Linked DNA regions of Homo sapiens. The protein of the gene in region 2 purifies or fractionates together with the protein of the main gene of each other region. This does not show direct contact. Each region holds a gene or a part of one and is shown on either strand. Other genes may lie near its edges.

Region 1 (3,819 bases), on a different chromosome or scaffold from region 2:
TTACAGGCATGTACCACCACGCCCAACTAATTTTTGTATTTTTAGTGGAGACGGGGTTTCACCATGTTGGCCAGGCTGGTCTCGAACTCCTGACCTCAAGTGATTCACCTGCCTCGGCCTCCCAAAGTGCTGGGATTACAGGCGTGAGCTACCATGCCCAGCCGTGTTTCTTGTTTCTCCCAACCCTTCCACTTCTTCCTATTTTCATGTTTTCTCTCTCATTTCTCTTTTTCCTCTCCTTTCCTTGTGAGTTTAGATGGCATTGTGATTAAGTTCTCTGGCACAGGACTTGTCACTCAGCTTTGTCATGTCAGAGGACAGGGTCCCTCTGTGGCTGAGACTTTGTAACTTCAGTCAGTTGCTGAATAATCCAGAGTACTTCTGCTGACAGTGGCCTGAGCGGGTGGGGGGGAAGTGACGGGCAGAATTTGGTGTAGCCACACCTGAGACTGAGCCTCCCCTCAGCCCCGTGTCTGGCACCATCATGGTGGGTGGGACCAGAGGGTACATGTGAACACAGACAAAGATTTGTTTTGGGGGTGAAGGTAGAGCTTGGTCAGGGGAAGCCGAAGAAAGTCATATATCAGGAACAGCCCAGGAGTTAGCCTGTCTGTCCCCTTTCCACAGCAACAGGTGAGAAGAAGGAATGCTGGTCGTGGGAGTCCTACCTAGAGGAGCAGAAGGCCATTACTGCTCCAGTCAGCCTCTTCCAGGACGTGAGTTGGACAATTTCCCCGTAGGAACAGCTTGTCTTCCTAGCCTAGGGACACACCACCAACCTCAGGCCTTCTGGCGTTTTCTGTGTCAGGCATGCCTCAGTGGACTGGCAGAATGGAAAGGGAGAGACTGTTTAGGGGCCCAGAGTGGAAAAGGGCCCCCCATAAGGGGCTGGCAGGGTGGGAAGAAACAGAGAGGTGGAAGCTAGGCTCACTCATCACTGGGCCTGCAGACTTTTGAATTCTGGTGACTTCTACTCAATTCAGCATTGATCTTTCCATGACTTTGGTGAGAGGGAGCCCTTGAGTCCAGCCCTGACTCACCCACATTTTTCAAGGGACCTGGGAGATATTCTCTCTCTCTCTCTCTAGATCCCTGTAGTAACGATCCCCAAATAAGTTGCCCCTTTGGAAATACCAGGCGGGTGGGGCCTAAAGGCAGCTCCTTCACCCCAAGCCCACTAGGCAAGGATAAGGCTGGATGGAAGCTGGGTCCTCTCCACTCTGTGCGTTGACAGTCCCAGGCAGTCACTCACAACAAGAATGGCTTCAAACTGGGCATGAAGTTGGAAGGCATTGACCCTCAACACCCGTCCATGTACTTCATCCTCACCGTGGCTGAGGTGAGCTGGGGCTTGGTACCACCTTTCTGATGATGTCTCTCAGTGCAGATTGATGGATCTTGCTGGGGACATAGAAGGAAACACCTCCCTCCCCTCAGAGCACACACAATCTAGTAGTGGATGAAGCTGGAATACATAGAAAGCTTAAAACAACAAAAACCAGATGGAGTTCATGGGACAGTCCTATTATTGGATGAATGTATACTGTCCACTCTGGGGGAGCTTGAGGAGATCCCGAGGGCCAGGGATGTTGGCATGAGTCAAACAAGGTCCTTGTCCTCTAGGAGCTCACAGTTGTCTGGGGAATCAGCCAAATAAACATGTCAGTGACATGCCACAGGGGTGGCAGCAGACTTGAGCTGGGAGGCACAGTTGGGTCAGTTCTGTCTGAGGAGCAGCAAAAGCATAGAGGAAGGGCCTCCTTTGCAGAGTCTTGAGAGATAAGTTGTGAATAAGGAGGGAGCTCCAGGCAGAAGGAGCAAAGTGGGCAAAAGCCCTGGGGCATGGAACAGACTGCTACCTTCAAGGAATTGCCACTAGCTCAGCAAGACTGGAAGCAGAGTGCGAGTGGGGAGCAGTGAGAGAAGGTAGCAGAGGGAGCGGTCATCAGGAGCCCTCAGCAGTCCTGAGCCTTGGTGGCTGCCCTCAGAATTCTGTCCAGGGCTCAAAAGGGCAGGAAGCTGTCATAGGGTCCACCTCCCTTGCATCCAGAACTCAGGGCTCATGAGTACATGAACTGTCCTCACTGTAGAATAGGACAGGGTGGGGTACAATTGGGAGGAAAGAAAGGTGGGGTTGGGGAACCTGCTAGCATTAGAGCCCCTGAGACCACCAGACTGGGCCAGGAGAGGTGAGGCAGATGGGGAGTGGGGCATCTCCTGACATTGGAGTTCCTGATTCCCCTCATGGGGCCAGGTATGTGGCTATCGCCTACGCCTGCACTTTGATGGGTATTCTGAGTGCCATGACTTCTGGGTCAATGCCAACTCCCCTGACATTCACCCTGCTGGCTGGTTCGAGAAGACGGGCCACAAGCTGCAGCCTCCCAAAGGTAAGGCCTAGCTGGGTTGGTCACAGTGAGGCAGTGAGTCCTCAGACCCTTCGCTTCTTCCCCTTGGGTCCCCGGCTTCCAGCTCTTTTGTTTTCTGACCCTGTACCCTGTTCCAAAGCCAGCCTCTCTTCATCGCATCCTGATGACTCTGCGCTGGGGCCAAGTTGACCAGAAGCCCTAGAACTTCCGCTTTGCACTTGCCCTTTGAGTGTCTACTCAAGTCGTGTCCTGCTTCAGTAGTGGGGAATCCCTGGGCAAGTTCTTGAGGGTTGGGGGGAGGTCCTCAGGCATGCCTGATTCTGCTGCTTCACTGTGGGGTGCCCTTGCTGTGGCCCAGCCTCTGCACGGCGCTCTGTTCATGCCCCTCGAGGGGCCTAGGTTACAAGGAGGAGGAGTTCAGCTGGAGCCAGTACCTGCGCAGCACAAGAGCTCAGGCTGCCCCCAAGCACCTGTTTGTGAGCCAGAGCCACGTGAGTGCCCCTGAGTGAGAGTGGATGTCACTCCCATGTGCCAGAGTTCACTGCAGCTGGCCCAGGGTATCTGACTCATCAGAAGGGAGCTCATGTGCTGGTTCTCTCAGCTTTGTTCTGATCTCTCATATCAGATGGGAGGGGTACAGCTGGGCAGGGTCCAGGGCCAGAGATGGGAAGCTGGTTATAGGTTTTTCCCGACTTCCCTCCCTCCTTTGCTACTGCAGATACCCTGTCCTCACATCCCCTTGGAGCCCCTGGCCCACTACCCTAGTCTGAGCACTGAGATGTCATTGCTCATATATTCTTGCTTTGGCTTGCTCTGCAGTTCTTTGGTGTAAGGTCAATGCCTCTATTCTGGGAGCTTCTTTTTCTTTCCTTTTGCCCAACATTGAGACTCTTCCATTTATTTCCAACAATTCATCCCTTGTCCTTTCCTCTGTTCAGGGCAGCTGGCAGCTTATCCAGCAGTTAAAGTATCTCATAATCCCAACCAAAAGGCCTAAGAGATACAGGGAGCCTCCATTAAAAATATCATACTGGACCAGGTGTGGCGGCTCATGCCTGTAATCCCAGCACTTTGGGAGGCTGAGGCGGGTGGATCACCTGAGGTCAGGAGTTCAAGACTAGCCTGGGCAACATGGTGAAACCCCCATCTCTACTAAAAATATAAAAAATTAGCTGGGCGTGGTGGTGGGTGTCTGTAATCCCAGTTACTCAGGATGCTGAGGCAGGAGAATCGCTTGAACCTGGGGGGCGGAAGTTGCAGTGAGCCAAGATCACGCCATTGCACTCCGGTCTCAGCAACAAGAACGAAACTCCGTCTCAAAAAAAAGAAGTATGTATCAGTCTTACTGGCTGGGTGCGGTGGCTCACACCTGTAATTCCAGTACTTTGGGAGGCTGAGGCGGGAGGATCACTTGAGCCCAGGAGTTTGAGACCAGCGTAGGCAACATAGT
Region 2 (3,819 bases):
TACCATTTCTCACGCATTGCTCTTAGTGCAATCAAAATACCTATTTTTAATGGCAGCAGAAAACATTAAGGTGATAGCATGAAGACAAATCCAATACTACTGCAGTTGGCACAATTAGAAATGGCAGAGGAATTCTGTGGTGGTTTTATCTGATTTGTTAAAATTCATGAATAATGCTAGCAAATGGCGTCATCACCAAAACTCAAGGAAGTGAAGTTGTATCTCACTACAAATGAAAAATTTGCCTTCCAAATCCTGCTGCCTTTGTGCTGATTTTTGTGACAAGTTCTAACAGCTTCCTGCCTTTTCAAACTCTCTGTGTACTTTTACAACAGGCACTTACAAAAATTAATCTGGATCAGTGTGTGATGAAGAGTGCCTTTAGTAAACAAGTGGTTTAACCTTGAGTGTTGGCCAAAACTGGAGAAGTGAAGACAACCAAGAAAAGCTTGTTACAGAGGAGGGAGGGAGAAAGAAAGCAAAGATGTCTACTGCTGTTCATGTGTAGTGCATCAGCTTAGCCAGACTTGTGAACTAAGGGCACTGCTACTTTTGAAATTTTCCTGAGAGTTAAACAAGAAAAATGAATAAAAGAATGAAAGAACCATTATTTGTGGCATTTTGGTTTCAATTTGTCACATTTTGCCAAGTATAACGTATTAATGATGACACAAGACACCCTCACTCTATTGCTAGAAATAGGAATCCTCTAAACTGTCCCTTAGTGATTTCTGACCGTTTCCCAAGGCTCTACCTCATACTTGTGCAAGAAAAAGCCCCTTGGGGTCTTTTCTCCCTTCATCATGTCTCACCAACGTTCTATGGATGTGACTATTATGAAATCCTGATTCTCTAGGCACCGACATCTCTGTGGAGGCATTACCAGAGACATTATGTTCCTCTACTGCTTCACTTCCCATGTGTGCATGTGTACACCTTTCTCTAATCTTCTCAATAGACCCAAGGCCAAATTATCACACTAGTTTTGCTACAGATGTGTACTCTTCAATATGTGCTACATTTGGTTATTTAAATAAAGTAAGAATTTCATAAAATAAAGTTCAGTTCCTCACAAGCACCAGCCATTTCAAGTACGCAGTAGCTACTATACTGGACTGCAAAGAATATAGAACATTTTCATCATTGCAGAAAGTTCCATTGGACAATGCTGCTTCGAACCCTTTCTCATGACTTCGTACTAACTTGTTCTGCTTCCTCACTTCTGGACATATATTTGTGGCAAGGAGCTACTCTCAGCTCCTCAATCCCACTATAAACACATCAGACTGCCCATGTCTTAGAACCCAGAGGCCAAACTGATCCTTGGCCCCAGAGATAGCAGAAAATATTTCTCTTCACTCTAGTCTAAGACCTATTTTTCCATGTTCCCTTCCTAGGACTGTAAAGAATGGGAAGATCTATTCCTTTCAGGGGAATCCTTCCTTCTTCCTTCTGGTGCAACTCCCCTCCTCTCAACTCCCAACACACACACAGGTGTTTAGTCTGGATTTATGGTTCCAATGAGTCCATCACAAAATTATCTGACCTGGGCCATTACCCAAAGAGTTTCAGTCATGCTGATCATATTTTACTTACTCCTGTTTTAGGGCCTACCAGATGCTGGTGCCTCAGTTTGGAATATTTCTCTCCCATCCCCAACAATTTCCTGGCCAACTCCTACTCACATGTGTGTAAATACCACTGCCTTAGGAAAGCCTTTTCTTACCATGCAGGCGGGATTAGCGCCCTACAATGACCCTGTTTTCTCTTCTCATAGCTTCCTATATGTTCCTTTGGTTGCTTTCATCATAGATGCTCTGATTAACGCAATGCCATTATTTGTTTAAAGTCAAATAGAAGTCCCAGGCAGGCTATGAGAGACAAAATTGAGTGTGAGAGAATCGCAACATAGATTCTGGAGGAGAGAGGCCATGAGATGAGATATCTGTAGGAGAGAACAGACTGTTTAAGACTGGACCTTACAAAATTCTTCAAGGTGGTGGAGAAACAACTGGAGTTGGTACAAGAAATAAAGCAGCTGAGTTATTTTCCAGAAGTAGAAGGAGAAGAAGCAAACAAACAAAAAAGGAGGGTATAGCCAGCCATATAAAATTTCATTTATTTTTATGATTCCTATTTAGCAATCCTTGTATTATTAAAATAAATAAGACTGGGCATGGTGACTCACGCCTGTAATCCCAGAACTTTGGGAGGCCAAGGCGGGCACAACTACTTGAGGTCAGGAGTTCAAGACTAGCTTGGCCAACATGGTAAAATCCCATCTCTACAAAAATACGAAAACTAGCCAGGCATTATGGCAGGTGTCTGTAATCCCAGCTACTCGGGAGGCTGAGGGGGGAGAATTGCTTGAACCCGGGAGGTGAAGGTTGCAGTGAGCTGAGATTGCACCACTGCACTTCAGCCTGGGTGACTGAGCGAAACTCAATCTCAAAACTAAAAATAAATAAATAAATAAATTAAATTAAATAAATAAAAGTAACATTATTCTCATGGTAAAAAATCCAAGCTAAACATGAAATTTCCCCCTTAGCATGGTCCATTCTCAGTCATTATACTCCCCTGGGTAACTACTCTTAATATTTTCTGGTGTATTTTAAGTGCATTTTTATCCATATATACACATATACATATCTCATGTAGCTTTTTTAATGTAGAATATATTTACATATATTATATTTTATGTATTCAAGAAAGAATGCTACATAAATAGCTTCTAATCATGTGAAAAGGCACCCAAACTTGTTAAGAATTTGATTTGATACTCTAATCAGAAAGAAGACGTTCTTTTTATAATCATCAGATTGGCAAATATTAAAAAGATCAATAACATTCACTGATGGTGAAGAACCAAGGGAATAGGCACTCTTACTAAGATTGTAAATTGACAAAGCTTTTCTGGAAGGCAATTTGCCTTTATATATCAAATATAAAATGTACCACATGTATACTTTTTAATCAGCAATTCTAATCCTCCAAGCTTCCCTAAATACATTCTGAAGTACAGAAAAAAATACATGCAAAAATATGATTGTAATATCACTTACAAACTGGAGTATTTATAACCCAAATATTCATCAACTGGATGAATGGATAAGTAAATTGTGGTATACTCCTATTACTCAGTTATTAAAAAGAATAAGGAAGACTTATGTAAGATTGCCCAAGATTTGATGTTCAGTGAAAACAAGAAAATCACAGAATAATGCATAATCATATTCTAAAATAAAAAATGTACATATTTATGTGGTGTAGAGGTTATAGAAAAAGAGAACTGTGATTGTAGTGGGGCAAGTTATAGCAAATGGGTTTGTGGGCACCTTATCTATACCATAATTCAATGCAAACATAAATGTTCTTAAAATGCTGGCATGTCTTCATAACCTAAAGACTCTGGGGTACTATTTCTAAATGTATGTCTAGTAATGCTGAAATTAAGAGTGCTGAATTTAAAAGCAGTGCCTTTTATAGATACTATGTCCTTATACTCAGAGCATTAATTTCCTTCCATTGAATTTTAGCATTAAGAGAGAGAACATAGAGAACCACTCTACTGTCTTTATTTTACAGGTGATGAAGAGAAATCCAAAAAAAAAAAAAAAAGGTGGGGATTGGGGGGAATTTGTCATTTTCTATTGAGTGATTTGCAGAGCCAGAACATTGTCCAACATGATCTGGTAGCCAGTTTTTGTTTCTTTTCTCTAGTGAACAATTTAATTCTATTTTGACTTATTTATAATTTCCCAAAGTTATTTTATACATTATTATTCTATAATCTTGGCCATCATTCACTATTATGAT

The links.
Region 1: the proteins of WDR49 (region 2) and L3MBTL1 purify together in Homo sapiens (affinity purification with mass spectrometry, with the first as the bait; one large-scale study listed by BioGRID). This does not show direct contact.

Annotation. Positions count from the first base shown.
Region 1 is NC_000020.11:43,528,030-43,531,848, forward strand, and holds part of L3MBTL1 (lethal(3)malignant brain tumor-like protein 1), read left to right. Parts: intron 1-627; coding exon 628-716; intron 717-1,173; exon of another isoform or gene 1,174-1,234; coding exon 1,235-1,339; intron 1,340-2,254; coding exon 2,255-2,390; intron 2,391-2,768; coding exon 2,769-2,860; intron 2,861-3,819. UniProt on the Homo sapiens protein: Polycomb group (PcG) protein that specifically recognizes and binds mono- and dimethyllysine residues on target proteins, thereby acting as a 'reader' of a network of post-translational modifications.
Region 2 is NC_000003.12:167,643,860-167,647,678, reverse strand, and holds part of WDR49 (cilia- and flagella-associated protein 337), read left to right. Parts: intron 1-3,819.